Regions from separate parts of the Homo sapiens genome. Here all the other regions are linked to region 3. The links come from fine-mapping of genetic effects on gene expression. A gene starts in region 3. Each other region holds a variant in brackets. All regions are shown on one strand. Distances are from middle to middle.

Evidence for each region. PIP is the estimated chance that this variant, and not a neighbour inherited with it, causes the effect.
Region 1: its variant is fine-mapped to the expression of TMEM51-AS1 in cerebellum (GTEx, PIP 0.97).
Region 2: its variant is fine-mapped to the expression of TMEM51-AS1 in cerebellum (GTEx, PIP above 0.99). The same link has a PIP of 0.9 or more in cerebellar hemisphere and iPS cells.

Annotation. Positions count from the first base shown.
Region 1 is chr1:15,110,322-15,120,373 of GRCh38, reverse strand. KAZN (kazrin, periplakin interacting protein) reads right to left here. Exons shown (of 15, transcript NM_201628.3): 14 at 7,833-7,947; 15 at 2,331-5,903. The coding sequence ends at 5,739. It overlaps TMEM51-AS1 (TMEM51 antisense RNA 1), which reads left to right. Exons shown (of 5, transcript NR_027136.1): 4 at 1,470-2,047; 5 at 2,567-8,559. Among named protein-coding and RNA genes, the nearest start is that of TMEM51-AS1, 37 kb to the left of the region's middle. RefSeq lists enhancers at 7,352-7,930, 7,801-7,940, 7,931-8,510. The variant C/T (reference allele first, on the strand shown) is at 5,376.
Region 2 is chr1:15,127,051-15,137,352 of GRCh38, reverse strand. The region is part of intron 1 of TMEM51-AS1 (TMEM51 antisense RNA 1); the gene reads left to right. Among named protein-coding and RNA genes, the nearest start is that of TMEM51-AS1, 20 kb to the left of the region's middle. The variant T/C (reference allele first, on the strand shown) is at 5,447.
Region 3 is chr1:15,146,220-15,156,521 of GRCh38, reverse strand. It overlaps TMEM51-AS1 (TMEM51 antisense RNA 1), which reads left to right and starts at 4,058. Exons shown (of 5, transcript NR_027136.1): 1 at 4,058-4,231. It overlaps TMEM51 (transmembrane protein 51), which reads right to left and starts at 2,775. Exons shown (of 4, transcript NM_001136218.2): 1 at 2,568-2,775. RefSeq lists enhancers at 1,270-1,931, 2,063-2,152, 1,932-2,593 and silencers at 2,303-2,482, 2,573-2,622, 2,683-2,952.

The DNA of each region.
Region 1 (10,052 bases), 36 kb after region 3:
GGGGTGCCGGAGATCAACCACAGAAAGAAGCCCTGCTTGGTTCAAGTGAATTGAGGGGAGCTGGGCATTTCCCACCGGTTTGATGAAGCTCCTCTCCAGCTTCATTCCCTGCCACTGGGAATCAGCGGCACAACTTGCAACCAACATGGCTGAAAACAGGCATCTTGGGCAGATTCTACCTGACACCTTAGTTGGCAGCCAATCAGTTGTGCCCTGGCTACCCTAGTGCCACCTCATGGGTCCCTTGCATTGGGCTGTAGCCTGATAAATCTGATTTAGCCATGAGCCAGAGCAAAGGGAAAGAGCGAACCATTTGCAGAAGGCGGGGCCTCATGTCCAGGTGTAGCACTTAGGAAGCACTAATTGCATCTGGGATGACACAGATGTACGGGAGCCAGGTCGAGGGTCCTGGGAGGGGGCAGAGGCCCAGCAGAGGATCTGCCTGGTGCCCCTTCTTTACCCTCAGGAGATGGTACCCTCACCCCCAGCACTCCAGCCTCAGGGGGTCCTTTGTAGCCGTGGGGCTCTGCCCCTCCTGCCACAGGACCTTTGCACACTGTTCATCCTGTCTAGAATCCTCTCCACCTGCTGAACTCCCCTCCACCCAGGCCTCACCTTCTCTTTTCTACATTAAATCCCCCATGTGAAAAGATATGAAAAGCCCTCTGACTACCAGCTACCTCTGCTGTCAAGACTTACTACAGTTGGCTGGGTGTGGTGGCTCACACCTGTAACCCCAGCACTCTGGGAGGCCAATGTTGAGGGGGATTGCTTGAGCTCAGGAGTTCAAGATCAGCCTGGCAACATAGTGAAAGCTCTACAAAAAAAAAATTAATCAGGTGTGGTGACATGACCGTAGTCCCAGCCACTCGGGAGGCTGAGGTGGGAGGATTGCTCGAGCCCAGCAGATTGAGGCTGCAGTGAGCTATGATCCTGCCACTGCACTCCAGCTTGGGTGACAGAGCAAGACTTCATCTCAAAAAAAAAAAGAAAAAAAAAAAAGACAGACCACAGTGACACTTGGCGGAGTATTTAATTCATGTCTGTCTTTCCCACCAAGAGGGTAGTGGTTGGGCAGGATTTTTTCACCATTACGTCCCAGCATCTAGCTCAGGGACTGCCTGCCTGCCTGGGATGGTCTTCCCCCAGATCTTTGCAGGGCTGGCTCCTCAGAATTTAGGTCTCAGCTCAAAAATCCTCAAGGATCCCCCGCACTCTACTTGAAGTCCCGATCACACTTGTCACTATCTGAAATCAATCACCCTGGCCACTGGTGTGTTTCTTACCTCCTTTCATGACCTGTGTAAGTTCTGCCACTGGATCCCCACCACCAAGGACCAGCCCTGGCTCCCAGGTGGATTGAACAATACAGTATCTGTGGTCAGCCTAGAGAAACTGGCCATCCCCAGTCTATCTTTCAGCGTCTTCTAACTTTTCTTGTCTCCTCCCCATTTAATACACACTTCCAGAGTGCTCAGCCCCTGCCGACATGAGCAATGGGCAGCGCGTCCAGCTGGGTTCCTGCCCCATGAGAAGCACACAGCCTGGTTTGGTAGGTGGGGCTCCATCAGGGCTGTTTGGATACCTGGGTGGAGCCCACAGACCAGCCCCCACCTTGTGTGGTTAGGGCTTTGCTAGGAAGGCCCATCTGTGCGCCATGACCTTGGAACTCGATGTGAGATCCCTGGACCGGCAGCAGCACCTGGAAGCTTGTTGGAAATGCTGATCTCAGGTGGGACTCCAGAATTCCCGCATCTGCACCTGCACTCCCAAAATACCTCCCCACCAGGTGATCCGAGGCCATGGGGCGGTCTGAAGGGCACTGTGCTGGGGCGTCCCACCACTAGAAATCCAGTCCGGTAATCTGAAGATGTAAGTGCCCCCAGGAGGAGTGACGGAGTGACACAAATGACACAAGGGGAGGGGACTTGTCAGGTGTCCACTCCTGACTGCAAGTTCCCAGGGCAGAAGGCAATGCCCCCACAGGGACTTTTCCAGACACTCCGAGTGCACCTGAATTGCATTTTGAGTGATGCTGCCTGCTAAGGTAAATCCTATGCTGGGAGGTGGGGGGAGGGGGGTTTGCCAACATTGCAGGGGGGTGAGGGTTGGGAGAGTGTGTAATTGTGAGGATGATCCTGGGATTTGGAGGCAGATGGACTGGGTTTGAGTCCCTGCCCTGGGATGTCTTAGCTTTACAGAGCTGGGCAAGGCCCTCCACCTTTCTGATCTCAGCTTCTCCATCTGTGAAATGGGTTCAAAATCTCACAAAGAGGCTGCTGGGAACACTAAATGAGAAAACACAGAAAAAAGCCCCCTCTGCCATAAAGTGCTGTGCAGTAGTATTTATTGTTACAGTGTTAAAATTCACTCTCGGGGAAGCGATTTGGGGCCACGGCCCTAGAAACTGCATCTTTGTTCAGAGCCAACCCATTTCCTCTGCAGCCACAAAATGCCTTTGTGTGTCAGGGCTCGGGAGATTCTCCTCGCTGGCCAGCCATTGGCAAGAATGCCAGACTCAGAGGTTGCCATTGCCCACAGGCTTTCTTCTCCTTTCCTTTCACAGCAGGAAGAGCCCTCCGGAGCCTCGAAAAGCAGAGTGGAAGTGGTGGTGCCCAGGACGCATGGGCTCTGATGGGAAGAGGGAGGTGGGCCTGAGCATGGGCCTTCTTCTCCCCAGGTCAGAGGGGCCTGGATGCCCCTGGAGGGAACACTGAGGTCACCTCTGGCCAAATCTTCCTGTTCTGCCAGTACCCAGCCCTGTTCAGTGACGTCAAGCTTTTGGGTCCCTGTCCTGGGGCCCTCCACGCTGGCCGGGCTGTGTAGAGACGCCCTTCTCTCCACTTTATTGGGTCCAGATTGTTGTGTGGCTTCTCCCCTCCTCTGCAGCCTGGGGTCTGAAAACAGCGATGCCAACAGACAGACAGATTTCCAAAAGAAAGGTCCGGCTCAGCCAAGGACAAAGGGGCCTCGCAGAGGCTCCTGGGGGTCAGAAAGCTGAGAGTCTACCAGGCAGGTGCCTTCTCCACCCACAGGCACAAGCTACAACAGCTTTCCAAGAAGTGCATCCACATCGTCCCCAGGTCCAGATGCCCACATTGCCCTGCAGGGACCAAGACCACACTCGGGCTGCTTGGACAGGATGTAGCTGGTCACTGTTCTGGAGCTGGCCCCTCTGTAGCCTGTGACAATCAGCTTGAGTCTCTCTGCCAAGTCTCCGCCTTCTGTTCTTCTTGCCGACCTTGAAGCAGAGTTGACGTTTCAGGTTTTTCCAGCAGACAAAGCTCACTCAATCTGATACTGTGGAGGTTGTTAATTTAACAACCAACCCATCCTCATGTTGAGAAACCAGCTCCAAATGCTCACCTGGCTGTCAGGGATGGGGAGCCTCATGGGTGAAAGAGGGTTGTGATGGCATAATTTAAACCAAAAGAGGCATTCGCGGTTGCCCGTGTTGCCTCAGGCCTGCTGGCCTCCTGCTGTGAACATTTTGGGCAATACTGTCTCTGCCAGTGACCCCCAATTGTCCACTTGTCTCCAGCAAGATCGAACCATGTAAGTGCCATTTCTGACAAGTTGGGTGAACGTTGGTTTCAAATCATCAGCTCTGCATTCAAGTGCCCTGCTACAATTCTGGCTCACTCTGTGGGAATAACTGCCTGCCTGGGCACGTTGCTGTTGCTGCCTCCCAAACGGCAGTTTCTGGGGTCCCAGGTCATCCAGGCTGGATGTGGCTTGGGAGAGACCTGTGGCACCAGGTTGGAGGGAGGTCTCACCTCTCCTTTCTGAGCTGTGGACTGCAGCTTCAGGACCCTATGGATGAGGCCGAATGTCATGAAGATAATGGAATTTGGAGTCTCAACAAAGCCAAGCCACATGCCAGAGATTCACCACCTGGGGCCCAGGATCAGAAGTGTGCCCTTAGGAGGCCAAACATCCACCTGTCTACCAACTAGACATTTGGTCTCAGACAGCAAGAAAGGCTGCGTTTATGTCATTAGGGGGAACACCACGGTCTTCGGCATGAGAGAGGTGTAATTCTCAAGTTCATCAGAGCTCGGCTTCCCCCATGAGAGGAAACAATTTGCCAGGTTGAAGAACACACGCTTTGAGGGTTCTCAGAGGCTGACACCTGTTGTGAATCTTGGAAACTCAAGCCCCAGTGCAAACGGCCTTGAAGGAGGTCGAGCATCATGGTTCCAACAAGTGACTCGCTTTGATAACCCGATGTGTAAGCAGAATCGCAATGCATCCGTCCTTCCCTAATCATCACGTGGCTGTCATCTGGTCAATGAACTGAGGCCCGAAGGCTTGAGTCAAACTGGTTTTCAAGGCTGTGCTCATGGGATTTATATGTTTCTTGAGCCCTGTTGGAGGCTCTTGGCAGGTCTGAACATTAAACATTTCTTTTCTTCCTTTTGCACACTGCTTCAACCTAAAGAGTTGGAGCGAACTAGCTCTATATCATTTCTGTGTTGTAAATGGGAAATTAGCTACCCCATAACTTCCCATTGTCTCCTGAGAGGTTACAAATTGTGTTACAGATATTAGCAAGTGTTAATCCTCACGATGTCCCTGGGAGGGAACCAGAAGTATCGTAGATGAAGACATCGAGGCACAGAGAGGTGAGGCCACTGGGAAGAAGCCACACAGCATAACAGTGGCAGGTCAAGAAAAGGGCTGGGGTTCTCCCCACCAATACCAAATGATTTTGCTCTGTGGAGTTTGTGTCTCGGTTAGGACATTGGTGAGCTATGTCACCTATGTTTCAGGTGACAGGGACATCACAACAAAGGTTTGTTGGGTTAACAATGTCAAGCATTTCCCTGCCCCAGACCCCAAACTCATTGCCACACTCCATACCACTGTCACGGAGTGCAGATAGTGGGGTTTGGAATCTCAGTAAAGCCAAACCACAGGCCAGAGATTCACCATATGGGGCCGTCGGTCATCCCCGATCCTGTTGTCCCAATAGCTTTCATTCTGGTGATAGGATATCTGCATCTCCTAGAAATGTGGCTGCTAAGCCCCACTCCTGCACGGATCATTCACCGGCTCCCCACTCAGCGTAGCCACTCCTGGGTGGATCGGCAAACAGCTCTTCAATACGTCCACCCCCATGTGTCACAGAGCTTTTCAGGTGGAAGGATTTTGCATTCTCCCAAGAGAGATTCAGTGAGCCAAGTCAGGACCCAAGTTCTCAGTCAAGGGTAAGATGCTGTAGCCGAGAGTTCCCCAACCCCCGCCCTGTCCGACGTCTCGGCAAGAGGCAGCACTTCCTGCACCCGGCTCTGCCAATGCACTGGGCGCTGGGGTGTGGGGTTGGGGTCCCCCCTGCTCCCGCCGGAAGGGTGTTTTAGGGAACTGTGGGCCTC[C/T]TCCCACCTTGGCAGCTCCGTTTAAGGCTCCAGGGACTGCTTGGCTGCTCCACAGTGACGGTCACTCTGAGGTGGAGCCTGTGTATCCTGGATGGAGGCAGGGCCGGACACTGTGACAGGTCCTCTGGGCCCATCTCCAGCTGAACAGGAAAGTCCATGGCCCACCCAAGACAGGTGGGCTGGTGTCTTCTCTCTCCTGGGCGCTGTGGAGCTGAAACCGCAGAGTCCATCGGGATTTTGCCCAGGAGCAAGGGACATCCTCAGCCTGCGGCCGCTATGTACAGTGAGAACGACACCTGGGGCCATCTGGCTTCTCTTCCTTCCTGGGTCTCTCACGTTGGGTCTGGTGGAGCCACCAGTTCCTTACACGTTGGTGACCTCCAGGCTGTTGTAGCCTTCCAGACGGCACTGTTCCAGCCTGCTCTGGGGGTCATCGTCTCCGCAATCTTCGTTTTGAAGAGAGCCATAGTCATCATGGAAATCGGGATCTTTGCTGCTGAAGCCCCTTCCTATCTTCCCCAGGGGCAGCTGAGAAGAGAAGAATATGATCAAAGGACAGGAAGAAGAGAAACAAGAATTAAGAATGAAGGTCTGGGAAATGTCTCCAATTCTAATTGCTCTGTGATTGAGTAACTTACTTAACCTCTGTGTGCTCCTCCTATTAGTAATAATACTCCCTGCTCAGGGAGGTTGAGGGGAGTTTGTGAATGACCATTAGGGGAGAGCTTTGTGTCCCCCTGCCCCCGGAAGGATTCAGTTGGTTACCAAGGGTGAGGACAAATATCGTTAGTCTGATTATTCCTGATTCACAAAAGCCTCCTTCTTCCCTCCTTGGTGGGTGGAGAGTTGAGGAAGTGTGTCCTGGAGACTACCTGTGAGAATGTCTGAGCAGGCCCATGAGGTCTGACTGCACTCCCAAGTCAAGGAGGAATATTCTAGACGGCCTGGTGTGGCAGAAAGAATGCGAGTTTTGGAGACTCACAGACCCAGGTTCAGATCCCTGCTCTGCCACTTCCCAGCTGTGTGACCTTGGACAAGTCACTTCCCCTCTCTGAGCCCATTTTTCTCAGCTACAAAATGGGAATAGTAGTTTCTAACTCCCAGGTTTGTTGTAAAAAGTAAAGTCCCACCAGTCTGGCCAACATGGTGAAACCCCGCCTCTCCTAAAAATACAAAAATTAGCCGGGCGTGGTGGCGAGCTCCTGTAGTCCCTGCTACTCAGGAGGCCGAGGCATGAGAATCACTTGAACCCAGGAATCAGAGGTTGCAGTGAGCTGAGATCGTGCAACTGCACTCCAGCCTGACAGAGACCCTGTCTCAAAAAAAAAAAAGTCAAGTCCCATCTGCAAAGCACATAGCAAGTGCTTGCACCGAGTAAGTCCTTGATGTACTTGATGAATAGTGACTATTATTATCACACATAGTAGGCCTTCAAAAATACTTCTCTCTTACTGCACACATCTCTGTGTTAAAGTAGTCACATTAGTGCTTTGTAACTATTTATTTGACTGCCTTTCTTTCCAGACCAGTGTTTCCAGATCTTCTTTTTTTATTATTATTATTGCTCCCTAAGGAGACTTTTTAGACAGTTTTTTCCTAATTGCACCCCTGCTGTGAAATTGTAATGCCACAGACATACTACGCCTCTGCTTCCGTACCATATGTACATTTGTGCTTTTACATAGAAAGAATAAGAATTTTTGCCACCGCCCCCACCCCCCACCAGCGCCAAAACAAATTTTCACTCCTTTGGGGGGCAATATCAGCCCCAATTACTAGAATGCACGTTCTAGAATGGAGCTTCTTAAGGGTAAAGTGGCAATGTATTCATGTTTATGAATGAATGGGGATCATGCCTTCTTCAAATGGAAGACATTTTGGATTACCCAGTTCTGCCGTCTCTGTCTGTGCATTTCCATTGAGGAATCTGTGTCAGTTGGAGTCTGTGCAATCAGACCTGAACTGCACATGTTTTCATACTGTTTGGTTGGAGTCACCAGAGGGTTCATCTTTGCTATTGGTCAGGTCACTGAAGTCGCAAATTGAAATCAGTGATTGGGGCTCAGAGTTTGGGGCTGCGCCGGAACCCTCTGGGCAGCCTAGCTGAATGCAGGATCCCCCTCGCCCCAGAGAACTCCTTTTCCAGGAGACCAAGGTGGGTCCCAGAATCTGCAAGTTCAGTAATAGCCCCAGGTGATTCTCATGCAGGCAGGTGAGACCTGCACTTTGAGATCCAGGTGCTACTCGAAGCCCTGCGGGGGCTTTGTGCACTGTACCCAAAGCATCGTGAAGGTTCCTTGAAGGTACATCCAGGGCATCTGTCCTGGATGCCCCCGTGACCCGGCCTGGCACTCCACCTTCACAGGCCAGCACAGGAGCCACAGAGCTCCCGGGAGGAGAAAAAAAGACCTTTCCCGGGTCTGCAGGACTCACAGGTAAATCCATTGAGAGACTTACCCGGCCAGCCTTGTACTTGAGACCGCTGCTGTTCTCCTCCTTTCCTGCCCGCGTGACGCTGGAGGCCCTGCCAGGGGGCGTTCCAAAACGCTCAGCCTCCCGGATGCCTGTGGAGCTGAAGAGAGGACCATTTTGAGTCAGCAGGGGAGGCTCAGTCAGCTCCCCAGACACACACACACACACACACACACACACACACACACACACACACATTGGTGACAATGACCACAGCTGCTGAGACCGACTGATTACCTCCCACGTGCCATCCTTGTGCTCAGCACTTTATAAGCGTGATTCTCACAACATGCCTGGGGCTTGGGACTGCCAGCCCAGCATTACAGGGAAAGGAGGCCAGAGACAGCAAGCAATTTGCCCAAGACGACACAGCTGTTAGCGGCAGAATCAAGATCTGAACTCAGGCTTCTGACACTCCAAAGTCTTGATCTTAACTCTTCAGTGTACTGTGAACCTTACTGCAACAGACTCCAGATGAGAATCTCAGCATGGTAGCTAATTAGTTGTGCTTGGAGAAGCATGAGGAGTCTCCCCTGCTCTGAATTTGCAATCTGTGTCCCCCACCTGGCTTTCTGCCTGAAGCTGCCCCCATGACTCCCTTCTTTGTGCAAAAGCATGGAAGCTTCTGTTAGGATTTGGCCAACTACAGCCTGCCTGCAGGTCAAATCCAGCTGGCCGACTGATTTTATAAATAAAGTTTTATTGGAACTCAGCAGTGCCCATTTGCTTATGTGTTGTCTATGGCTGCTGTCTTGTTGCTATAAGGACAGAGTTGTAGACTTTTGACAGAGATCATATGGCTCCCAGATCGTAACATATTCACTATCTGGCCTTATACAGAAAAAGTCTGCATATCAATGCTGTGGATAAACAGATTTGGGGCAAGAGGCCCGGCCTGGAGCCAGAAGTCACCACGGAGGTAGACTCATTGAAAGAAATGAAACTTCTAGGCCGGGCATGGTGGCTCATGCCTGTAATCCCAGCACTGTGGGAGGCCAAGGCGTGTGGATCACTTGAGGCCAGGAGTTCGAGACCAGCCTGACCAACATGGCAAAACCCATCTCTACTAAAATTACAAAAAGAATTAGCTGGGCATGGTGGTGCACACCTGTAATCCCAGTTACTCGGAGGCTAAGATTGAACCTCAGGAGAATCACTTGAACCTGGGAGGTGGAGGTTGCAGTGAGCCGAGATCGTACCACTGCACTCCAGCACAAGACTCTGTTTAAAACAACAACAACAACAACAACAACAAACAACAACAACAGAACCTTCTAGCATCTTTTAAGCTGCCTCAGAGAAGTTCTTCTTCTGGGGCAAATTTTGCTGAGAAAGTTCAAGGGAGGGGAGTGGTGTGTAGGAGACAGCACTGATTGAATGGCAAATGAGCTACGTTCTCAAACTCTTGGGTTCCACAGGCTTCCACATAACAGGGAGGGCCTTGCTCAGTGGTGGGTCAGGAAATGCCCTCATGAATGGCCCCTCTGCTCCACCTGGAGGCGAAATTCCCCAGGTCCAGTGGGGAAGCAGCTGTAATTGCAGAAGCCAAAAAATGTAAACTCAGGTAGCTGGCTGTTTGCTCTCTGGCACAGAGGGGTGCTGGATCCCCCAGCTCTTGGAACACTAGCAGTCAAATAAGCCTGGGAGAGCCTCAGGGTCCCATCTCTTATTTTCACTGAAGAGACAGAAGACCAAAGAGGGGGTGTGTCTTGTCCAAAGATACACAAGACACCCAGTGGCAGGGATGGAAATTGAACTTGGGCCTCTGGGATCAAGGTCTAGACCACGGCCTTCCCACTTTGGGATTTAGGGTAGGACAGTGGTCGCACGTGTGGGCTCCACGTCAGCAGCCTGGCTCAGTGCCTTAGCGTTGGCATGGCCTGGGCCGCGTGCTGAGCAGAGTGGGGTTAATAACAGAACTTCCTCGGCAGGTCATTGTGAGGACTAAATGAGAGGATACACACACACACACACACAAACACATATGCACACACACAAACACATACACACAAACACACAAATACACACACATACATACACACACAAATACACAAACATACAAACACACACAAATACACACATACACAAATACACATGAACACATATGCGCACACACAAATACACAGACACACACAAACACACAAATACACACTACATATACACACATACACACAAACATACACACATATACAATATGCCCACACA
Region 2 (10,302 bases), 19 kb after region 3:
AACAGAAATCATGCAGTATGTATTCTTTTGTGTCTAGCTTCTTTCATCATCATTGAGTCTGGGAGATCCAGCCAGGATGTTGTGTATAGCTGTATTCTTCTTCTTCGTTGCTGTGTAATACTCCATTGTATGAATATACCATAATTTATATTTTCATTCTCCCATTGATGAGCTTTAGGGTTGTTTCTAGTTTGGGGCTATTATGAATAAAACAGCTATGATCATTTGTGCGCATGGCTTTGGCACCCAGGAGCATTCATTTCTGCCAGGCATGCACACAGGAGTGTTTCCAAGCCTTGTAGTCATTCTACTTGAAAATGCTCCAAGATAAGGCAAAAGGGACCTAGTGTGTGTCCCTCACCTCCCCACCCCATACCCACTCTAGACCAGGCTCTGGGCTCCAGGCATGGGAGCTGAGAGGCAGAAAGAAGAGAGAGGGCACCACGCCGCAGCAGCCACATTCAGAAGAAGATGTAAAAACCCCTCTTGCCAGGTGGGTGTGGTGGCTCATGCCAGTAATTCCAACACTTTGGGAGGCCAAGGTGGCTGGGTCACCTGAGGTCAGGAGTTCAAGACCAGTCTGGCCAACATGGAGAAACCCCGTCTCCACCAAAAATACAAAAATCAGCTGGGCGCAGTGGCAGGCGCCTGTAATCCCAGCTACTTGGGAGGCTGAGGCAGGAGAATCACTTGAACCTGGGAGGCGGAGGTTGCAGTGAGCCGAGATTGCCCCGTTGCACTCCAGCCTGGGTGACACAGTGAGACTCTGTCTTAAAAACAAACAAACAAATAAACAAACCCTCTTGCCAACAGCACTTCCGCTTTTAAAAAGGTCATCTGGTCTTTTGCTGGAAATGTGTGCATGAGAGGTTTTCTGAGCCTTGGGAGAAGGTTCCCTTCCCGATGGTGCCTGTTGACCTGAGATGATCTAGTCTAATCTTCCCATTTTACAGGTAGGAACTGGTGTCCAGGGAAGGGAAGTGATGCTTCCAAAGCCACACAGCTGGTAAATGACAGGGTCAGGAACACCAAGTGCCTTAGCTTCCAGTGGCTTTGTGTGGGGAAAAGAAAGAGAGATCAGATTGTTACTGGGTCTGTGTAGAAAGAAGTAGACATAGGAGACTCCATTTTGTTCTGTACTAAGAGAAATTCTTCTGCCTTCAGATGCTGTTAATCTGTAACCTTACCCCCAACCCTGTGCTCCCTGAAACATGTGCTGTGTCCACTCAGGGTTAAATGGATTAAGGGCTGTGCAAGGTGTGCTTTGTTAAACAGATGCTTGAAGGCAGCATGCTTGTTAAGAGTCATCACCACTCCCTAATCTCAGGTACCCAGGGACACAAAACACTGCGGAAGGCCGCAGGGACCTCTGCCTAGGAAAGCCAGGTATTGTCCAAGGTTTCTCCCCATGTGATAGTCTGAAATATGGCCTTGTGGGAAGGGAAAGACCTGACCGTCCCCCAGCCCGACACCCATAAAGGGTCTGTGCTGAGGCGGATTAGTAAAAGAGGAAGGAACGCTTCTTTGCAGTTGAGACAAGAGGAAGGCATCTGTCCCTGGGCGATGGAATGTCTCAGTATAAAACCCGATTGTATGTTCCATCTACTGAGATAGGGAAAAACCGCCTTAGGGCTGGAGGTGGGACAGGCGGGCAGCAATACTGCTCTTCAAGGCATTGAGATGTTTATGTGTATGCATATCTAAAGCACAGCACTTAATTCTTTACCTTGTCTATGATGCAGAGAACTTTGTTCACGTGTTTACCTGCTGACCTTCTCTCCGCTATTATCCTATGACCCTGCCACATCCCCCTCTCTGAGAAACACCCAAGAATGATGAATAAATACTAAGGGAACTCAGAGGCCGGCGGGGATCCTCTGTCTGCTGAACGCCGGTCCCCTGGGCCCCCTTTTCTCTTTCTCTATACTTTGTCTCTGTGTCTCTTTCTTTTCCAAGTCTCTCGTTCCACCTAACGAGAAACACCCACAGGTGTGGAGGGGCAACCCACCCCTTCAGCTTTGTCTGTAAATTGGGAGGAACAATTAGATGCATTGATCTTCCCCAGAGATAATTGGGCTACCTTGGAGCCATTGTCATCAATGTTTAGGGTTTTCTAGTAACCATTCTTCCATGGTTTTTGGATGCAAGCTTTTATTTTTTAAATTTATTCTTTTTTCAACTTTTAGATTCAGCAGGTACATGTGCAGGTTTGTTACAAAGGTATATTGCGTGACGCTGAGGTTTGGGGTTTGATGGAACCCGTCACCCAGGTAGTGAGCGTGGTACCTAACAGATCGGTTTCAACCCCTGCTCCCGTCTCTCTCTCCTCCCTCATAGCCTCCAGTGTCTGTTGTTTCCATCTTTATGTCCATGTGTAGATGCCAGATGTCACATTTACTCTATTCAACATTCAAGAGACCATTTTGAGGCCGGGCGCAGTGGCTCACGCCTGTAATCCCAGCACTTTGGGAGGCCAAGGTGGGTGGGCAGATCACTTGAGGTCAGGAGTTCAAGACCAGTCTGGCCAACATGGTGAAACACTGTGTCTACTAAAAATACAAAAAATTAGCCAGGTGTGGTGGCAGGCGCCTGTAATCCTAGCTACTCGGGAGGCTGAGGCAGGAGAATCACTTAAACCCAGGAAGCAGAGGCTGCAGCGAGCTGAGATTGTACCACTGCACTCCAGCCTGGGGGACAGAGCAAGACTCCATCTCAAAAAAAAAAAAAGTCAATGTCCTTATGGTAATCTATAATGCCCTACTGATGCCCTCTGCCTGCCTCACTTCTCTGACCTCAGCTCCTACCCCCCTCCCACTCACCTCACTCCAGCCAAAAGGTCCTCCTCAATGTTCTTCAGCCCGGACCCCAGTGCCTCTGACCCCAGGGCCTTTGCATTTGCTGTTCCCTCTGCCCAGAATAGGATATCAAACAGTGTCATCTTAGACGAGATCTCTCTCCAGCTCTTGGCTTCACCTCTTCTGTACTGTCTTATTCTTAGGCAGCCTCTCTTTTTCATTGTGGTGCCTCTGGCTCCTCCAGGCTGTCATCCTCCAAGGGGAAAAGAGAGTATTTCTCTTGGCCAATAGTTCAATATAAGTCCTGGAATGGAATCGTATTGGCTCTGATGAGGTCACATGCTCATTGCTGACCCAATCTCCAGGGACAGGCAGGAGAATGGAACACGAAGCTCCCATGCTTCACTGAAACCACAGGGTTCCACGTGGAATACGGGGAGGGAACAGGTGGGCTGAACTTGCAGCTATGATCCAATACTAATGGTGACAATAAAAATGATAACAACAATAATAGTAGTGGCAGCCAGCATTAACACAGTGCTTGCTCTGGTCTCAGCAGCAGGAAGGCGGGAAAACATCTGAGACCTGGGCCAGATGCACCTGTCAAGGTGTCTTAGGAAACTCTTACCTTGGGTGTGCAGTTGGGCTGAGAAAGCAGTGATATCCAATCTTGTCCACATGTTAGCAGCTTCTTTTAAAGAATAACTGTGGGACCCACCTCAAACCAATTGAATAGGAACCTTCTGGGGTGGAAAGGAACTCTAACATTAGGGTTTTTAAACTCTCCAGGTACTTCAAACATGCCTTGGCTCTGTATATTAGTCCGTTCTCACGTGGCTATAAGGACATACCCAATACTGGGTAATTTATAAAGGAAAGAGGTTTAACTGACTCACAGTACAGCATGGCTGGGGAGACCTTAGGAAACTTACAATCATGGTAGAAGGGGAAACAAACACGTCCTTCTTCACAGGGTGGCAGGAAGGAGAATGAGAGCTGAGTGAAGGGAAAAGACCCTTATAAAACCATCAGATCTCATGAAAACTTACTATCATAAGAATGGTATGGGGGAAACCACTCCCATGATTCAATTACCTCCCACTGGGTCCCTCCCATGGCACGTGGGGATTATGGAAACTACAATTCTAGTTGAGATTTGGGTGGGGACACAGCCAAACCATATCACTCTGGTACTAAAAACCAGCTAGCTCATTGGGGCTGGGGTGTGCTATCTGCAGTTTCAGCAACCACCCAGGTGATTCTCCTGCTCATTTATAGCTTGAGGGTCTCTGCACAAGGGCCTTACTTCCCATAATTGCTTGGCACCCTGAGGTCAACAGATAAGGCTGGTCCTGACCAGAAGTGACCTGCTGGTCACATGAGATCACCTGCTAGTCACCTGAGGGCTGAAAGAATAAACATCTCAGGCACCTCGTGACCATTCTGCAGGGGGAGCTTGATGCAAGGTCTCTTGTATGAGTCTAAGAATCTTTAAAATTGCCCTGTTCGCTTTAGAAGGACCCCAGTTTTATTTCTTGATGTTCTCATTTTCCTATGAAATTAGTAGTATCTTTCATTCCTGGAGGAAAAAACTAGTCCTTGCCCCTTGTGTTAAAAATTATTTCTCTCCTCCCAGGTATGCAGTTCTACAGACAAATGGAGATTCTTTAATAGCAGGGCTGCCTGGGGGAGAAAAAGTTATTCTGGCCTTATTTACCCAATGGCATTTCAATTGACAATGAACACGAATGCCCTGATTGTTGTTTTGTGGGTTCTGGCCAGTCCACACCGGAGCTGGTTACATTTCAAAAGTTTCTTGATAGGTGGGTGCCTGGGAATTAAAATATATTTCCTTGGCCTGGTGTGGCTGGTCACACCTGTAACCTCACACTTTGGGAGGCCGAGAGGGGAGGATAGCTTGAGGCCAGGAGTTTGAGACCAGCCTGGGCATAGAAAGACCCCATCTCTACAAATTGTGTGTGTGTGTGTGTGTGTGTGTGTGTGTGTGTGTGTGTGTGTGTGTATTTTTTTTTTCTTCTTATAGTGACAGTGTTATCAAAACCAAGGTGGTTTTCCAACTTAGCCCACAAATATCTATTCAACTCATATAATTGTAGAAAGTAACCTGGGTGCAGTGGCTTACACCTGTAATCTCAGCACTTTGGGAGGCCAAAGCAGTGGATCATCTGAGGTCAGGAGTTTGAAACCAGCCTGGCCAACATGGTGAAACCCTGTCGCTACTAAAAATACAAAAATTAGCTGGACGTGGTGGCATGTGCCTGTAATCCCAGTTACTCAGGAGGCTGAGGCAGGAGAATCGCTTGAACCCGGGAGGCAGAGGTTGCAGTGAGCGAAATCTCATCACTGCTCTCCAGCCTGGGTGACAGAGCAAGACTCTGTCTTGAAAAAAAAAAAAAAGTACTATCACAACATGAGTAAGTTTTCACTTATGTAACTCATCTAAGATTTTAGATGGGAAAATGTAAAAACTGATTCCAGAGTTAATAGAACTTGTGTTGTTGGAAAAATGTTCACATCTCCCTCTTAACCCAAATGTTGGCCCGGAGTGTCTGTGTCTGGGTGCTGTGCTGTGAGGGCCGGGGGTCACCATCCTGGGCAACGGCTTCGTGCAGACACCTGCTCAGTCAGGC[T/C]GGAGGCCCCAGCAGCCAACCAGCTGCTGTTTCTCAGTCTGGTCACTGCCCAGACCAAAGCAAGGACAAGAGAGGGGACAGGTGCTCTTGGGAGATGCAGTTGAGAGCAGGGATGTGCTTAGCTGGGGCTGCACCCTGGCAGGCACAGACTTGCTTTGAGATATTGCATTTTATCTTGAACAAATTCATGCCACCTTTGCATTCTACCCAACAAAACTCTCACATTTGCGGGGCACAGTGGCACACGCCTATAGTCCTAGCTACTCGGGAGGCTGAGGCGGCAGGATTGCTTGAGCCCAGGAGTTCAAATCTAGCCTGGGCAACATAGTAAGACCTTGTTTCTAGAAAAACCAAACCAAAACGATTTGTTTTATTATATACAGCTTAACCCTTCTGTGCCTCAGTTTCTTCATCTGTAAAAGAGTGAAAATAGCAACACCTGCCTTGTAGGGTTGCTGTGAGGACCGAATACATTTCATTATATTTAATGAACTTAGAATAATGCCTGTCACCTAGTAAGCACTACACAAGGTTAACTATTACTATTATCAATGTTGTCACTATTATTCATCTCATTAACTTACTAGTTGTCTGGAATCAGTTGCCTGGGAGTGGCCCCTACTCTGGTTTTCAACACAACACACTCTTAAGAGCCAACTGCACACTCTGGGGGAGGAAGGGCAATGTTTCTGCAAATTGTTGTTCCCTTGGCATATTAGTTATCTATTCCCATGTTACAAATTATGCCAAAACGTAGTGGTTCTGTGAAAAACAGTATGTATTATTTCATAGGTTCTGTGAGTCAGGATGAAAGCTGGTGCTCCTGGTTCAAGGTCTGGCACAGGCTGCAGTCAAGATGCCTAACAGGCTGCATTATCCCGAGGGTCAACTGGGGAGGGACCTGCTTCCAGGCTTACCCACGTGGTTGTTGGTAGAACTCAGCTCCTTGCAGGCTGTTGGCCAGAGACCACTTTAGTTCCTGGTCAAATGGGTCTCTTTATGGGATGGCTTACAACTTGGCAGCTGGCCTTATCAATGCAAGCAAATAAGGAGACACACACACACACACACACACACACAGAGAGAGAGACAGAGAGCGAGCACGCCCACACATACACAAGCAAGATGGAGGTCACAGTCTTTCATAACCTAATCTCAGGAGTGACAGCCCATCATTTTTACTGGATTCTATTCTTAGAAGCAAGACATGACCAAGGAGAGGGGACTTCACAAAAGGTGGGGTCATTGGGAGCCATTTAGAAGCTGCCTGGTCTGTTGGGGGCACAACACCTTGAGATCATGGGCATTAGAACCAAGTTTGATGCCAACTTTTAAAAAATTTTATTATTGGATCTTGAATTCCTAGCCTCAAGTGATCCTCCTGCCTTGGCCTCCCAAAGTGCTGGGATTACAAGGATGAACTGCCATGTCTGGCCCAATGTGAGCTGTTTCTCTTACCTAGTGTTAAAATAAAATGGGAGGCCATTAGGCTGAGGTGGCTCCCATGCCCTGGGATTCTATATAAACAAGGTGAAGCTTAACCTTAGCCAATCATAAAAGACCAGCTAAGCATTAATTACATGATCAGGAACTTTCCACCAGGATCATCTAAATAAGGCAACTGCCCAAACCTTAACCAATCAAATAATTTCTTTATTTTCCACATTCCTTATTTAATTTATCTGATTTTCCTCTTTACTCTATCAAAGCCCTTCCTTCAAACTCCTCTGGAGGAGCCCTGAACCACCTTCGATTTGGTGCTGCCCAGTTCATGAATTGCTGTTTGCTCAAATAAACTCTTTAACTTTTTAATGTGCCACCATTTATCTTTTAACACCAGCAGTGTGAGTCCCACACGTTGCTCTATCTCACCCAGCCTCGTCCCTGAGGATCAAATGTTACCTACCTTGATGAGCCACCTTGCCCAGTGTGTGAGTTTCCCGTGGCTGCTGTAGGAGATTGCCACAAACTTGGTGGCTTATTCTTGCACGGTTCAGTGGCCAGAAATATGACATGGGACTCACTGGGCTAAAATCAAGGTGTCAGCAGGGCTGTGTCCCTTTCAGGAGGCTCTAGGGAGAATCCGTTCCCTTGTCCTTTCCAGCAGTGAGAGGCTGCCGGCACTCCTTGGTCTGTGGCGCCTTCCTCCATCTCCACAGCCAGGAATGGAAGTTGAGTCTTTCTCATGTTGCACCGTTCTGACCTTTTCAGTAGCCACACTTACCTCTGACCCACTTCTTTCTCCTCCTTCACCCAGCGTTAAGGATCCCTGTGGCTACATAGGGCCCCCTGGATAATCTAATCTAGATATTCTTCCTATTTTTAGGTCAACTGATGAGCAGCACTCATCTCACCTGCAACCTTAGCTCCCTCTGCCATGTAAAGTATCACAGTCACGGGTTCTAGGAACCAGAGTGTGGGCCTCTGGGGACCCATCATTCTGGTGACCATGGAGTCCTTCCTTGAATCAGTTTTCATGTGACCCAAGGGCCTCCCCTTTCTCACAGGCCACACCTGGCTGCCTGATTGTCCCTGGCAGGGGGGTCCTGGCACCCAGAGGAGGAGGCGCTCCCCATATGCCCAGGGGCCAGGAGGGAGGCTCATTAATCGTGTAGGAACATGAAGAGGAGGCAGGCGGCTGGACAAAGTGATGTTCAGGGTCTTGCTTCGAGGTTCCCACGTGTGTGTCTGACTCCCTGGGGCTGCCCACGTGGTCCTGTGGTCCTGTGGTTTTACTCCAGGAGGCCACCTGCCTGCCACCCCTCAGAGGAAGGGAAAAAGCTGCCGTTTCACGTTGGAGCTGCACGCACAGAGGAAGACCTCCTGCCTGGCATCAGGCCATTCCTCAACTCATCTCCTGCTGGGTGGTCTATCGTCCTCACAGCGTGCTGGGCTCAGGATCTGGGCCTCCTGGCTGGAAGGGAATCTGGGTGGCTTAACAGGTTTTATTTGTCCTGAGGCCAGCTTTCAAATTTTGCCGACCCCACTGATGTTTCTGGCATCCTGTGGAGGAAAGAAAACAAAAGCCATTTCCCCCCCAAAAGCCACCTTTTGGGATTGCAGACAGCTGGCAGGGATGGTGGGGGGCCCTGCCCACCTGAAACTTTGTCTACTGGGCCTGGATCTCTGAGTGGCCTAGGCTGCTTTGGTCCTTCTTGAGCTGAGCTGGGCTAGGCTGGTGAGGGGCGTATTGTCCTGCCATCTAGTGGCGAGTTCTGGGACTGCGAGCTATAATGGCCCAGGCGCTGCCTATAGTGGAGCCATATATACCAGGGCGGTTGGTCCCAGGCCCCTGGTCATGCCACAGAATCACCAAAGGAAGTTTAAAAACTACGTAGGCTCCAGACTCACCCCACACCTAGTGAATCAGAAATCCCGAGGCCTGGAAATAAGCATTTTAACTTTAGCGTGTAGATTCCCTAGGCCCTATCTCAAAACCCTAAATTATTGGCTTTGGAGAAGGACCTAGAAATCGGAACTTTTAACAAGAGTACTCCAGTGACTCTCGTGAGCAGCTTGACTTGAACACCACCCATTCAGCTGCCCACAAGATAAATGAGGCAACTGTGGGATGTAGATTATTTTAAAAGCTGATACAATATTCGATCGTATTACTAGGAGCATAAAGTCCAGGTTAAGGGAGGATAGCAGTTAAAAACATCTGGGTTCGAATCCCTACTTTTGATACTACTAGTTATGTGACCCGGGGCCAGTGTCTTAACTTTTTCCTGCCTCTGTAAAGTGGGGATAAGAGTACCTGTCTGCCAGGATTACAGCAAGGACTCAATTAGATCTCATGTAAAGGGCACAGGGCCTGACCCTTGGGAATTGGGCCCTTCATTACGATTCCACTGCTTGGGCCTATGTGGGAGCACGGTGTCCTTATTCAGGGATGTATTTATGAGAGGATTGTCCAGAGAAGGAAGAGATGGAAGGGGAGACCATGGAAGAAGGACAAGGGGCATGGAAAAGGCTTGAGGGTCTGTAATGGGGTTGGGGGAAGGAGATGTTTTGGGAGGGAGGCATTTATGCTGCTTAAAAAAAATAACAGGCCAGGCGCGGTGGCTCACGCCTGTAATCCCAGCACTTTGGGAGGCCGAGGCGGGCAGATCACCTGAAGTCAGGAGTTCGAGCCCAGTCTGGCCAACATGGCGAAACCCTGTCTCTACTAAAAATACAAAAATTAGCCGGGTGTGGTGGCTCATGCCTGTCATCCCAGCTACTCAGGGGGCTGAGGCATGAGAATCACTTGAACCCAGGAGGCAGAGGTTGCAGTGAGCCAAGATCGTGCCACTGCACTTCAGCCTGGGTGACAGAGCAAGACTCTGTCTCCCCAAAACAAAACAAATAACAGAGGGTCAACGTGGAAGAGGGACCAGGAGGCAGAGTGATAGAAAGTCCCCATGAGCAACTGGAACTAAGAAGGGCACAGGCAGACTCATGGTACAGTGAGCTCACAGCCACAGGAGACTGCAGGCCGATGCTGCATGAGGAATCTGTTGGGTGCCATAAAGCAGTGGTTCCCAACTGTGGCACTTATGTCCCTCATGGAGTGTGACCTGATTTGGGGGACATGCAGGTGAGCATTTGCAGGAATATTTATTTGTATATTTATGTGCATACTTGGCACATAGAGGCACACATATCCGTACCCACATCTATGTATTAGAAAACAGAGCCAGCGTCTTAGGCCTGTGGTTACACAGACACAGGCAGTGATGTCAGGTCTGGCCCGATTTAAAATAGGCAGCTATTATGCCAATAATAGTAGAGCTGGTTGTGGATGTGGTTGGAATAGTCAGGGTGGTCTTGGGGAACCCAGCCATAGAGGAACTTTCTGCTTGGGTTTGGAGACT
Region 3 (10,302 bases):
AGACACCTGAGCTTCTGAAACTTTCCCAGCACCGAGGGAGACAATGCTTCTCTTTTGCATGACTCCCACCTTAATTTGGGGCTGGGGGAAGAGAATCCACACTAAAGCTCCTCACACTCTGGCCTCTTCCAGCCCAAGAAGCCTGAGGGGTTTACAGCCAGGCCTGCAGAGGGAGGGAGGAACGTTGACCAGAAACACAACCTATTAAAACGGGAGCCCCAGAAGCTCCAGCTGGCCTCTGCCTCCAGCTTTCCCATCCCTCACGCAGACAGAGAAACTCCCAGGCCTCGTGACATCTGGAGCCAGCGAGCCGGAGAGTCGCAGCTGGAGGGGCTTGGGTCCTGCCAATACCCCAGACACTCACTCACTACTTCTCTCTGGCAGGGGACCAGGCTGGCAGTTTGGGCCTCATGTAGAACCCCAGAATCTTACCCTTGACCAACAGTCATGAGTGAAGGCCACACATTACTCTCTGCTTCCTGTATGGGCCTCTCCTCCAGCTCCCCCATTCATTCCCACTGCCCCCACCAACCCACAGGCCAGCCTCTCTCTCCTAGGAGTCTTCTCTAGGATCCTCGCCAACTTCCAGGCAGCCAGGATTATCTTCTTAACATATGGATGGGATCAGACGACTTCCCTGCTTAGAGAACTTGAATGAAAGGGACGTCTTTCTCCATGTTGTTCATCTTTGTTGAGCACCTAGAACAGCGCCTGGCCCACAGAAGGTGCTCGGCCAACATATGTTGAATGATTCCAAGAAAGCCCCCACCTGTCCAGTCCAGCTCACTCCGGACCTTCCATTCCCTTTACTTTTCCACACCCTCCACTGCCTGAGCACCTTCCCCAGCCCAGCACACCCCAGGCACTCTCCTGTCGCTGTGCCTTTGCCTGTGCTGTTCGATCTGCCCAGACACCCTTCCTCCCCTGTTCCCTGGGGGGACTCCAGTTCCCTGATGAATATTCTAATACTCTTTTCTTAGCAGGACCTCCTGAGTTATTTCCTTTCTTCTGTTCTCGTCTAAGCCCTGTGACATAACTTACTATAGAATACTTCATGTGCTAGGCATAAATACCCCACCTCGCCCTTGGAGATCATCATCCCATTTTACAGATGAAGAAGCTGAGGCTCAGAGAGGTCAGGTCACACAGCCAGCAAGTGGTGTGGCCTGACTGTATCGCCAATTCTGCAACACTTTTCATGAGTATCCCTGACTCCCTCACTAGGCTGGGGGCTCCCTGAGGCTTCTGGGCTCTGGGTCACTGGGGCAGGCCCCAGACACCCCATCAGAGAGCTGTCAGCTCCGAAGCCGTGAGGAGCAGGTTCACCACTAGCCTCCTCTCTCTTTCTTTGGCCTTTTCTCCCAGTCTGGGGGTACCTCTCAATTGGTGGAGTGAGATATTTGGAGGGGCAGGGGCTCTGTCCCAATAGGTCAGGATCCTCTTGTGACAGGTTTCCGGGGTGTGAAAGCTGTTCACGGTCCCAGGGCCAACAGTTCCCTAGACAAGCTGTTCTCCGGGTAACCCATTCAAAAGGAAAGCCAGAAGCCGGCCGGTCCTAGAGGGGAAAGCCTTCCACCCGCTGACTTACCTCCCGGTTCGGGTCCCTGCCCCGCCCACCTCGTCCCCGCCCACCCCACTCCGGCAGCGCCCGGGTTCCCAGCAGCCAGACCTCCCCTGCTGTTGGGAAGGACCCGCAGTCCCATGCACCGTCACAGGCACCTCGGAGCGCTGCGCAGGACACCCCACGGGCTGCTCCCTGGGGAAACCGTGGGGGAGGGGCCAGGTCTCTCGCCCCCACCGCTGGTTGGGAAAGAGACCATTATCCTGTAATGCAGACCAGGCGCGCCGGGCCAAGCGCCTCCCGTTTGTGCGCTGATTTGAGATCTGATTTGTACTCTGCTCTCCCCTAGGCCCGGTAACGTAACTTACCGCTGAGTGCTTGCTGGGTGCTGGGCATGAATGCCCCGCCGCACCCTGGGACGTTGTCATGTCAGTTTCACAGATGAAGAAACCGACGCGCTCAGGGAAGGACTCGAGTTTCAATCCACTTTGCTCATGCCCGATTCTTTACCCCCGTGTTTGCTTGTAGAGCGACACACACACATACACACACACGAATCTAAATCCCTAAAAGGCCCCGACTTCCATACAGTAAGGGATGCGCGAGCAAAGCGCCAAGGTGGTTTCCTGGGACCTACTGGGAAGTTCTGCTCCTAACCACGCGCTGAAAGCGCTTCTGGCGAAGCCAAGGGTTCGAAGCCCGCCGGGCGGATAGCACCTGTTCCCGCCAACAGGGGGCCCCCAAGGCCAGCTGCCTTCCCCAGCCGAGGCCAGCTGGCCAGGCGCGGTGCCCGGGAGGCGGGAGCGTCCCGCGCCGGCGGGGCGCGGCCGCAGAGGGTGCGGGGTGCGGAGTCCTCCCGGTGGTCGACCCCAGGCGGGAAGCGCTCGGCGGACAGACGGACGGACAGGAGACCCAAACGGGCCTCGGCCCCCTTACACGGCCCTGTGGGGAACCGACAGCGCGCCGCGGGAAGCAGCGGGCGCAAGGCGCGGCGGCTGAGACTCACCCGGGAGGCGGCGGGTCCGGCTCCGTCTCGGCTGGGCGGTCCGGGACTGCGGGCTTCGCGACCCCCGCGCCCCACCCGGGCGGCCTCCTCGGTGGGCGCCGCGATCGCGGGGCTGGGGTTCGGGGGATTCTTAGCCGAGGGAACGCAGTGGTGGAGAGGGCGCACTGCCCTCTCAGGGACCGGGTTGGGGACGCAGGAAGCGCGGCCTGGGAGCGCCGGCGTGCGGGAGGGAGGGACCGCGGGAGGCGGAGGGCGGTGCCGGCCAGGAGCGGCCTCCAGCCCGGAGAAGCACCGCCCACCGGCCGACCCTCCCTCCCGGCCCTCGGCACCACCCCCGGGCCCGAGGCGAGGGATCGCAGCTGAGCGAGGCGGGCACCCACTCCCCAGCGTATGCCGCTGGAGCGCGCTGAGCGTGTGCCGGGGGCTGGGCCTAAGTTCTCCCCAACCCTTGCCAGCCGAGTTGGATAAGAGGGGGTCGGGAGAAAATAGAGCCCTGATCCCCCCTCCTCCCTAGGGCCCAGAGAATCGGTGTGCATGCGTGTGTGCGCGCACGCGCGTGTGTGTGACGGGTGGTGGTCGGGGAATGTCTCAAGCTAGAAGTCCCAGGTTTTAGGGGTTTAAGTGGAGCTGGGAGACCCGCTTTCCTCCCACACCAGGCGCAGACGCCGAGGCACAGCTCCGCCAGCCGCCCCGCCTTTACCTGGCGGGATACTCACCTCTCCTCCTTCCTGGGGAGGCCACCGCCTCCCTCTCCCCCTTCTGCCCTGGGCTGGTTCCCAGCGAGGTGAGTGACCGGCACAAGTAGGGAAGGAGGAAGCGAGTTTTTAAAAACTGAGTCAGCTCACGCCCTCGGCCAGGGTCCCCACCCGATGCGTGGTCCCCAGGGCGCCCTCGGGATCGCACGCCCGAGTCCCGGCCCAGGTGGGGCCCATTCCGGGTTCTTGCGCGCGGGCAATGGATGGGGGCGCGCTGCACCGGGAGCCTGCCCTGCTGAGGGCTCATCCCCAGCTTTGCCGAGAACTTTCCCGGCGAGGCACCGGCTGGCGTTTTCCCAGCCTGCGAGTGGCAGGCGGGCAGCCAGTCTCTGCTCGGATCCACGGAGGCCCGGAGCCGCCACGGAGTTCTGGCTCCGGGGAGTGCAAACCCGAAGTCGGCGCGGAAGCCTCTCACCCGCGGCTCTGCCTCCGCCCCTTGGAGATCTGCCCTCGGAACTGCGTTGCTCTGGCGCCCGAACTAGGGTGGGCTGGTTTCAGCCAGACCGCCAAAAAACGTGGATGCTAAACACAGAGGGAAGAGCCAGCTCCCATTCCCTCTCTGAGCCTTAGATTTTTTTGAATTCCGAGAGAGGTCAGGCCGGGGTCCCCTTCTTGGGTGAGCGTCCAGCCCTTTGAAGTTCAAACACTGAGAAGCCGATAGGCAGCTGGCTGGCGTCACAGGATCGAGCCGAGGACTGAAGGCGCCTCCTACCGGGAATCCACCGCCTCCAGACGAAAATAGGCTGCAATCAAGTTCACTTCCAAAGGCGGAATTCATGGGTACATATGGTGTCCACGTGTGTACACCTGCAGAGTTGTAACATGCGGGCATTTCTCCCCTCAGCCCGCCATTCTGGCTTCTTAACTTGCACCCTAACAGCTCGACAGAACCTTGGCGTCCACAAAAAGGCAAGTTTGGGTCTGCCTTATGATTTGGGGGTGGGAAGGCATTTGGGGAAACAGTCTCCATGTCTATGACAGCAACTGCTATTCCTCACATCCTTGCTATGAACCAGGGGCGGGGTTACCACCCACATCCCCTGAACCATCTCATTTAATCCTCATAACCTAGGAGGCGGTTATTTGTTATGCCCACTTTATAGAAGAGAAGGCTGAGGCTTAAGGAGGTGAGGTCATTTTGCCCAGTGAAAACACAGCTGGGAAGTATCAGGATCTAGACCCAAGATGATCCACTCCAGAGCTTCTGCTCTCCCTCCCATAGCATAATTCCTCCTGTCTGCACATACTCTCCACCCTGAGAGAATGTTCACCTTGCCTGGCCACCTGCAAATGCGGAATAAACATTTGTTGGATGAATGAAAGCCCTAAATAATAACCCATGATTTTAGTGAATAGGGAGGACCCTTTGTGTAGGCAGGTACCTATAATAATATGCTCCCATTTAAGAGCTGTGCGTATTCATCCCAAAGTTTAGACAATGCATGTGGGGACCTTCCCAGGCTCCAAAGGAGTGACAGGAAACAGTCACGTAGCTCTCAGATAAGACCAGGAATCTGGTTTTCATTTGACTCTGCAAGATGGACTTTGGAGAGGCCTGGGGTGGGGGCGGGGGGTGATCATGTCAGAACAGCTGTCCCAGCTCCTAATCTGAAGACAAAGAGCTGCTGTACTTTTCCATGCCAGGGTCATCCCAGACCCGCCCCACTCTGCTGCAGACTCAACTGGGCAGGTCTTGTTTATCACAGGATATCATCTTCAGAGTGTTCCATTTAAGCAGGCTCACCCTGGCTGATCTGGGGAGAGACTGACGAAATTCTCAGGCAAAGCTGAGGCCCAGGCAAAACTGAAGAAGCTACCAAAGGAAGCATGCCTCTCCTTATCCTCCTCTCCTCCACAGCCCTCTCCCTCTACATGGTTAGTTTCTCTGAATCTTCCCTACCATTTATTGAACCCTGTGTTTCACGTGCACTGCATACATTGTGTTCTTTGGTTTTCAAAACAGCCCTAGAAGGAAGATTCTATTATTCTAGTTTTTCAGATGAGGCTGTTAAGACTCAGAGAAGTTAGGTACCTGGATCTGCTAGCAAGTGACAAAGTATTTGAATCTGGGGTCTTTGCAGGGCCCTTGCTCTAAATCACTAAGCTAGGAACCCCCTTCTGTGATAGGCAGAATAATGGCTGCCCAAAGATGTTCACAACCTGATCCCCAGAACTGGTTACTTTACGTGGCAAAAGGGACTTTGCAGATGGGATCAAGTTAAAGATGTTGGGACGGGGAGGTTATCCTTGATTTTCCTGGTGGGTCCAATGTTGTCAAAAGGGTTCCTACAAGAGGGAAGCGGGAGGGTCAGAGTTAGAGAGGGAGATGTGGTGATAGAAGTAGAGATCAGAATGATACAGTTGCTGGACAAGGGTCAGTAGCCAAGGAATGTGGGCAGCCTCTAGGAGCTAGAAAAGGAAAGGAATGGAGTGTCAGCCAGAGCATCCAGAAGGAGCTCTTGGCATCCACAAAAAGGCAAGTTTGGGTCTGCCTTATGATTTGAAGGTGGGAAGGCATTTGCAGATCCGTTTTGGACATCTGACCTCCAGAACTGTAAGAAGATAGTTCACTGTGTTGTTCTAAGCCATGAAGTTTGGGTCAATTTGTCACAGCAGCGGGAGGAAACTAATACATCCTGCAAACTCAGTCACCTAGGCAGATGTTCACTTCACCTGCTTTTTTGGCTAACTGTCCACTGTAAACTTCTGAAGAGGCACCATGATCTAGCCTACATCACGGATTTAGAAAGAAGGCAGGATTCCATCACCTTTGTCTTTGGTTTCTGAATCCTCTGCTATTTGTGAGTTGTGTGACCCTGGGCAGATGTCTTGTCCTCTCTGAGCCTCAGTTTCCTCATGTGTCAAAAAAAAATTATTAGCATTTCTATGCTAATAATACCTATTTTCCAGGACCAACTCGGGGATCAGGTGAACTAGTATGTGACAAAGTACCCAGTGTGGCCTGAACATGAGTTGTGGGAGCATTAGCCTGTCTAGTTCTGAAAGCCTGAATTCAAAGAGGAGAGGATGCTGTTCTGAGAATTCCCGTGGCATTACATTTTTATTCTTTCTGGCTGAATGGGTAAATAACGACAGTTTTAAAATATTCGACTGTCCCTGGTTAGTGACCAAGACCCCAGTCTGTCATGCTACTGACTTTCCAGGCACATCAATGAAAGTGAGGCTGGAAAATCAGCTTATAGAAATAGATCATCATGCAGAACAACTCACACATGTGCTCAGGAACAGAACGTCCAAGGGTTTTCATTGCTGATTAATTGTAACGGTGAAAAGTGGTCACCAACCTCAATGCCCAGCACTAGGAGCTATGCTAAGTAAATTGTGGCATAGACTCATGCTGGCACACTATGAAGTCACCAGAAAGAATGAGGTAGAGCTATCTGACATGGAAGAACGTCCAAGTTATATCATTCACCGAGAAAGGCACTAAATATGATGATACTACACAAACCACTTTTTTTATTTTTTATTTTTTTGAGACAGAGTGTCTGTCACCTAGGCTGGAGTGCAGTGGTGCAGAGGTTGCACTACAACCTCTGACTTCTCGGTTCAAGCAATTTTCCTGCCTCAGCCTCTCGAGTAGCTGGGATTACAGGCGTACACCACCACGCCCAGCTAATTTTTTGTATTTTTAGTAGAGATGGGGTTTCACAATGTTGGCCAGGCTGGTCTTGAACTCCTGACCTCAAGTGATCTACCCGCCTCAGCCTCCCAAAGTGCTGGGATTACAGGCATGAGCCACCATGCCTGGCTCACAAATGACTTTTTAAAAAGATGTAGACACACATACATATATTTGATTATGTACAGAAAGACTATGGGAGGAATCAAACCAAACAGGTTACCCTTAGAAACTGAGGGGGGGTGTGTGTGTGTTGGGGAGGTAATTTTATTTTTTAGTGAGAATGTGTTAATAATAAAGTTGGCTGGAAACCACCTGTATTGTCCACCAGGAGCATATCCTCCTATTATCTGTCCCTGTATCCTCCCTTGCTTGCTCTGTTCTCTGCCATCTGTCATTCTTTACCCTTGCTTGGTTCTGAGCAGGTCACTCTCTCTTCCCACTGACTTTTTTTTTCAGACAGGATCTTTCTCTGTCACCCAGGCTGTGGTGCAATGGCATAATCTCTGCTTACTGCAGCCTCCACTTCCTGGACTCGAGTGATTCTTCCATCTCAGCCTCCTGAGTAGCTGGGACTACAGGCATGCACCACCACACCTGGCTAAGTTTTAAATTTTAAATTTTTTTGTAGAGATGGGGGTCTTGCTACGTTACCCAGGCTGGTCTCAAAATCCTGGGCTTAAGTGATCCACCTGCCTTGGCCTCCCAAAGTGCTAGGATCACAGGTGTCAGCCACCGCGCCCAGCCCCCACTTACTCTTAATGTGGGCTTATTTCTAAACCTGTGAGGAGCTGAGCAGTGTCTCTGCTGTATGACTCTTGCCAAAGTCAGCAGTAAATCACGTATGTGCACTTTCAACCTGGCCTTTTCCTGAAACGGTGCACATTAGTCACCGGGAAGGGATGTGTCTTGCGTGTAGGTTTCACTGGTGATATACTGGCCCAGCCCCACTGAAGGCTGAATCAGGTCTGTGTGGCAGACAAATTGTGCTCACGTAGCGCAAAGCAAAATTGGATAGTTGGACCATTAGTTTAAATAAAACAGTTTTGTCCCGTTTGCTGAAAAATGTTGATTCTGGAAATGTGTTTCTATCTGAGTTACCAGTGTAACTGGACCTGTGTAGACAGCCCAGAATGAAGCTTCTGAGGACATCGTCGCATTGGGGTACAAGTTCTTGAGACCCCTGAGAACAGCCAGCTAGCAATTCTACCTCCCTATCACCCCATCTCCTCTTGTGCTCCAGCTTGTAGAAACTTCCCTCTAAGCCTCAGCATGATTGCAGTTCATCTGGCTGCTTCCTAACTGGTGTCCTGCTCCCAAACCCTCCCCCTTTAATCCATTCTCTGTATTGTAAAGTCAGCAATTCAGTGGGTCCCCGTTGTCCCCTCATGCAGTCCAGCCTTCTCTGCAAGGACATGTGGGACTTCCTAAGGGGGTGGGCCCTTCTCACAAGCTCAGCCTCATTACTCGTCATCCCTTGGGCTCCATGCTCTCTCATCTTCCCGTGGGTCTCTTTTTCATCAGCGACGAAACCTTTCCCAGAAGCTCCCAGTAAACTTCCTTGATACCTCCTTTGCCGGAACTGGGTCATATGCCTGTCACTGGCAAGGACGCTCAAAATGGGCATAGGCTCTCAGGATTCACCTGGAGTCACCTGGGGGTTGGTGAAGACACCTGAACCAAATGGAGGCTTTGACAACAGAAACAATGCCAATGGCTGTCAGAAGACCCCAGCAGGTCCCTGCAGCAGGTAACCTCGAGCCCAGGGAAGCTGCCATGTTGGACTGGCACACACTGAAGCAGGAAAGCCAACTGCAGAGGGAGCAGGAGAAAGAAGCAAGCCTCCACTTGCTGGGCTCAAGTGATTCTTCCATCTCAGCCTCCTGAGTAGCTGGGACTACAGGCATGCACCACCACACCTGGCTAATTTTTAATTTTTTTTTTTGTAGAGATGGGGTTCTTGCTACGTTACCTAGGCTGGTCTCAAAATCCTGGGCCTAAGTGATCTACCTGCCTTGGCCTCCCAAAGTGCTAGGATCACTGGTGTGAGCCACCGCGCCAGTCCCCACTTACTCTTAATGTGTAATCCAGGAGGCCTGGATTACTGCTGGCCCTCCTGTTCTGTTTTTCCCAGGAATTTCCTTTCCTGATGAGTTTCTGTTTCTTGAAATAAAAGGACACTAAGAGAGTCCCTTTGAAGCTTCGACAAGCAGCTGAGGAGTAATGCCAGAGGCCAGGCATGGGTGCCCTGACCTTCTGCTAGTTAACTAACTGCTCAAGGGCCCTGTGTGATGGGATTCCAAGGAAATCCACTCACCCCTTGGATAAGCCAATGACAACAATAATAGCAGCCAACCGTCATACAGTGCTGACCAGGGCCAGGCAGTCTGCTACACACTGTACAAGGCCTGCTGCATTTGATCAGGCTCGTCACCACATGAGGAAGGTACTATATTTCCCCTTTTCACAGATGGGGAAACTGAAACAGAGAGGTTAAATGACCTGACCATGAACACCGAGCTGGCAAAGCTGGGGTCTGGGCATGGACCCAGGCTGCCTGGAGGCTGTGTTCTTGCAGCTTCTCTACCCTGGCTCTCATAGAACTGGTTGCTTGTGACACCCTTCAGATGGGACTTCTTGATCCAGGTTTGGAGAATGGGTCATAAACCTGGGGACAGAGGGGCCCAAAGGGAGAAGCAATGACAGTATCTTCCACACCTGCCACGGTCCTGGTTGCCCGCGTACTCCGCCTTGCTGCTGTAGTGTGATAATATTTCACTTGATGAAAGTTTTTTTTCCTCCCTTTTGTTCTTTCCAGACAGTGGCTCTTCTTCCTTTAGGGGAAGCCTCATCCAGCAGAAAAGCAGAGATGCTTTTGAGTTTCAAGAACCAATACTTTGGCATTACAAGAGCCTGGGCTTTGAGTTTCAAAAGTAGAAGTCCCAGAGGCTTCTAGGAATAAAATTTGTGGCATTAACAAGACATCCTGAAGACTGAGCACGATGCAAAAGTCATTTCCCCATGACCAAGATGAGGTCAAGTGCCCTGGGCCAGGGGTCTGGACAGAGGATCTAAGGAGAGTGGATGAGCCATGATGATGTGGGGCTAGGGAGGTGGGTGGTGCCCAAGCGGCAGTCCCACACTAGCTTCATAAGTGTGGCTTTCAGGCAAGCTCAGGAGAGTGCCTGCTCCTCCCCTCCCAAGGCACAGATGCAGTGGGGGAGGGAGTAATTGGCAGAGGGGTGACGCAGCCTTGCAGAGGTTTACCAAGCTCTGCCAACATCTCCCGTGTGCCCCAGAGGAGGGAGGAAGAAGCTGAGAGGAGGAGAAAGAGGCC